Linked DNA regions of Homo sapiens. The protein of the gene in region 1 purifies or fractionates together with the protein of each later gene. This does not show direct contact. Each region holds a gene or a part of one and is shown on either strand. Other genes may lie near its edges.

Region 1 (2,534 bases):
AAAATACAAAAATTAGCTGGGCATGGTGGTGGGTGCCTGTAATCCCAGCTACTTGGGAGGCTGAGGCAGGAGAATTGCTTGAACCTGGAAGGCGGAGGTTGCAGTGAACCAAGATCACGCCATTATACCCCAGCCTGGGCAGCCTGGGCAACAAGAGCGAGACTTTGTCTCAAAAAAAAAAAATTTTTTTTTTGGTAGAGATGGGGTCTTGCTATGTTGCCCAAGCTGGTCTCAAACGTCTAGCTTCAAGCAATCCTCCTGCCTAGGCCTCCCAAAGTGTTGGGATTATAGGTATGAGCCACCGCGCCTGGTCTGGGAAGGTAATTGATTCTGGAGCCACACAGCTCCCCACCCATGTAATGAGAGCCCTGGCTTTGAGCTAAGATAGAGTCCCTGCCCCACTGCCACCACCAAGAAGCATACCAGGGGGCCATGGTTCTGTCCCATGTGTGTTAGATGACGTGCCACCTCCTCAGGAAAATTACCCCAGCCGCTCAGGACCATTCAGTCCCAGGCATGCTGGAGGGACTTGGGGACATTGGGCTACAAAGGACCCTAACTGTGGGACTCAGGGGTGGCACCCTGCAGCATCTCCTTTTCAGAGCCCCTCGCAGTGAAGTCCTGCCTTGTTTCAGGTGGGAAGGAGGCCCCAGTACTGGTCCTTGGTCATGTGTAGAAGTTCTACGTGTGATCTTTGATTGCCAGACGGAAGGGTGAGATAGAAAATCATAGTTCTTTTATGACTCTATAAGCTTGTTCAACAGTTGAATCATTGTAATTTAATTTTATTTTACAAGCGGTAGAAAGACTCACTGGGATTGAAAACTGTGTATCATCTCCCTAGGAGATGACCTAACAAATAACTGTGATGCTATTTCAAAGGCATTTACGGCCGCTCTGCAGCCTCCTGTAGACAGGCTGACAGGCGGCGGCAGCCCAGCGTGGCTGCGCGGGGCAGGAGTGCTTGTCAGCAGGAATGCTGCTCCCGCCATCGTGACCTAGAGAACCACTGTTGACATCCCTGTCTTTCTGCCTTTTATGCAAACATTTTATTCTTTTGAGAAGTGTCCACTTTTGTTCTTATGTTTCTGCTTTAAGTTTTTCACACAGTGCAAACATACTTTGCAAGTATGGGGACTCCTGGATGGCACTGTGACCAGGGCAAGGGCAGGTGTCCCACAGACACTATCTTCTGCCCAGCCTCCTGCTGGGTGCCATAGGAAATGGGCAGAGAAGCCACGAGTCCAGGATGCCAAGGAGGGCGGGGCAGGCAAGGCAGAGAGGCACCTGGGTGCTTGTGAGATTCCAGGAAAGGACAGAAACATTGGGGTGCTTCTGGGAGGAACTGGCACGCCCCGGCCCTTGCAGAGTGGACAAGGTTTCAGGAGCTACAGAAGGGTGGAGAGGGCCCCCAGGAGCACAGCAGGCACTCAGAGCAGCAGGAGGGGGTTTGGTCAGAGCTTGGGTGGGAAATGAGGCCGGACTGCACAGAGGAGAACTGGGTCTGCTGGGAGGGGCTCCTCCTTCCCCATGCTGCAAGTGTCTGGTCTGAGCAGGGAACCCTTCTCTTTCTTGGTCCTGGTGAGGTTTCATACGGCATTGGAAGATTCCTGGTCAAGCAGCTGTAGAACATGACCCAGGCACGCGAGTGAGCCTTGCTGGCTTTGCCATTATTTAAAAGCAGCCCTGGGCATGGTGATGGCGCCTATGGTTTCAGCTACTCAGGAGGCTGAGGTGGGAGGATCACTTGAGCCTGGGAGGTTGAGGCTGCAGTGAGCTATGATCATGCCACTGCACTCCAGCCTGGGCAACCAGGTGAGACCCTGCCTCAAAAATAATACAATAAAAAGTAAAAGCAGCCCTGGGGAAATGGAGACAGTGGACAAAGCAGGCTGGGGCACCAGGTGTGCATGTGGGTGTGAGTCTGTCATGAGAGCTGTCCTGAATGCCCTTAACGCCACTGAACTGTATGCTGGAAAACAGTGACAACAGTGGATTTTGTTATATAGACAATTAAAAAAGAAATAACACCCAGGCCTGCTTCCTGAGTGTTTGTGTCATTTTACTTTCCCACCACCAACCTCCGCGCAAGTTCCGGTTGCTCCGCATCCTCATCAATGCTTGGTGGTGTTGTCAATAACTGTGTTGAGAGGACAGAGATTTAAGGCCGAGGGTGGCCTAGCATTTAGCCTCGAGCGCAGCTGTCACTGGCTCCTCACCCCCTCCCCTACCTGTATCGTTGGCGGGAATGAAAGGCACAGTCCCCAGTGTGGGTGGCTCAGGAGAGCCCTCCCTGGGCCCAAGCAGCTCTTCCAGCAGGGAGGGCTTGAGCCGGATACAGATCCCACAGCAGGAGGCTGAGCCTCTTGGGATGGGGCTGGGCTGACATCTGAATTCTTGAGTAAGACTGGAAACATCATCCACTCAAAACTTGGCTGGGCGGCATGGGGAGGGCTCAGTGTGCCCAGGTTTGTGGCACCTCTCTGCTGGGTCACAGCTGGGCAGGGGTCCACAGGTAAGGAGTGGCTGCAGCC
Region 2 (2,305 bases), on another chromosome or scaffold:
TTATTAATCACCGATTTGAATATTCTGTCTTACCATCAAAATATAGATCTTGATAAATATAAAGTTACCAAAACTATGTAAAAAGTGGCTATAATTCTTTGTAACTGCATGTGTAACATGTTCTTATTGAGAGAGTGATTCTAAAATTACTAGTGGACACAGTGGGCATGCTGTGGTAAATATTTTTGCTCCACAGAAGTGGAATCCCAGGCTTTACTGGCAATAGTAAAAAAAAAATCTATTTAGACTTAATACTTGAAATTTCTTGTGGCTTATTCTGAGTTCCTTTCTGTTTCCTATTGCCACAAATAGCACTTTTATTAAATGGTATTTTCCTGTGTTCCATGAAATTATTAGCATTAAATTCACTCCACAGCTGTGTCTTTCACTGTGTTTTAAATACATTTAAAATCACATTTTTTTTACAGTGTCTGGGTTTTATTCATGGCCTTCAGATGTTCTGATTTCTTGATCACATGTTCTACAATTTAATTGAATGCCCGTATGGAATTTCAGACTACTTTCTTACATTTGCCCTCTGGGTCTTTCACTGAAATGCGGAGATGCTTATTCAGTTTTTAGTAGTTAACCATCACTTGTCAAAACAGATCTTATTTCTTAAAAGCCATAATTTTATTATCATTTATTTTACCTTTTGAGCCTACAGTTAGCAAATATATTTGAGTCAAGAGCAGTGGTTCTCAACGAGGGGTGATTTTGCCTTCCAGGGGATATTTGACAATGTTTGGCAACATTTTTAGTTGACACACTGTGGGGTGAGAGTTGCTACTGGCATTTAGAAGGTAGAGGCCAAGGGTGCTGCTAAACATCCTACAGTGCACAGGGCAGCCCCCCAGAACAAAGAATTATGTGACCAAAATGGTAATAGTGCCGAGGTTGAGAAACCTCAGTGTGGAGTCTGGTGGAAGATGTAGATGGAAAACATAGCAGGCAGGCAGGAGTGGTTTACGGAGACCCTCCTCTGTGTTAGTTATCTTTCCTCTACAAGTTTACGAAGCATTATTTTTGATGCATCAACAGGATAACGATGATGATGACTGAGAAGCACTTGTAAGGTCCCAAGGAGCCATCTGGTGACCAGGGAAAATGTTCAGTAGGGATTTAGGGTTGAATATATTATATTTGCACTCTTTGCTACAGATGGCAATTTTCAAATAACCACGTTATTATGATCCCATTTCCAAGAATGGGAGTTGAATAAGTTGTAATCGCCTCTAATGACACATTGATGCTATGCAGACTTGCAAGAGAGCAGAGTGAGAGGATTGCAGTCACCTTTCATGCTTGGGGTGGTCCTCAGGAAGTGAAGCTGAAGGAGCAGGCAAGGTTTTGACAATGATTGTTTGACGGTTTTAAGGTCATTTAAAAAAATGTTCCCCCGTAGGCTTTTTATAATGAATGGTAAACTCAGTTCTGGAATCTTTGAAGGTTTGTCCATGACTGTTCTAGCAGTCCCCAAAATGGGTTCCAAAGAATGCAAATTTTACTGGCCATCAAAGGTTTCACTATAGAATGATTGGGAAATACAGATATCTTTAGTATAGGCCTTTCATAATCTTTAATATGTTAACATGAATTTTAAAGCTTCAAGAAGAAAAAAAGATATGCAGCAGTTTATTAGTTTTGCATTGCTATAAAGGACTATCAGGCTGGGTAATTTATAAAGAAAAGAGGTTTATTTTGACTCATGGTTCTGCAGTCTGTACAAGAAGGTTAGGGCCAGCATATGCTTCTGGTGAGGCCTCAGGAAGCTTACAATCATGGCAGAAGGTGAAGGGAAGCAGATATGTCACACGGTGAGAGACAGCAAGAGATGCCAGGCTTTTAAACAGCCAGCTCCCACGTGAACGAATAGAGTGAGAACTCACTCATTACCATGGGAGAGGGCACAAAGCCATTCATGAGGGATCCTCCCCCATGACCCAAACACCTCTGTCAGGCTCCACCTCCAACATTGGGGATCACATTTCAACATGAGCTTCGGGGGGGACATGCAGCCAAACTATATCAAGCAATATTTCTAATATTTATTTGATTGTGAAATCTTTTTTTTTCTTTACTAAATCTCTTTAAACTGCAGTTCTGGGAAAAACAATTTGTGATATTTCTGGTTATCCCGTAGGTCACATCATGATACTTGGGAACAGGGTGATATATTGTATTCTTATGTAAAGTGCCAAATTTTAATTTGCTAGTATTAATATTATGTGTGTGAGTTTACATAATTCGTATTCAAATTAAGACCAATCTTTTGTAAACTTGCTTACTGACCTTGGTGGGAGAT

The links. Proteins that work in one complex are often made in the same cells at the same time.
Region 2: the proteins of CEP89 (region 1) and KCTD18 purify together in Homo sapiens (affinity purification with mass spectrometry; one large-scale study listed by BioGRID and IntAct). This does not show direct contact.

What each region holds. Positions count from the first base shown.
Region 1 is NC_000019.10:32,875,425-32,877,958, reverse strand, and holds the end of CEP89 (centrosomal protein of 89 kDa), read left to right. Parts: 3' UTR 1-2,034; downstream 2,035-2,534. UniProt on the Homo sapiens protein: Required for ciliogenesis. Also plays a role in mitochondrial metabolism where it may modulate complex IV activity.
Region 2 is NC_000002.12:200,490,764-200,493,068, reverse strand, and holds part of KCTD18 (BTB/POZ domain-containing protein KCTD18), read left to right. Parts: intron 1-2,305.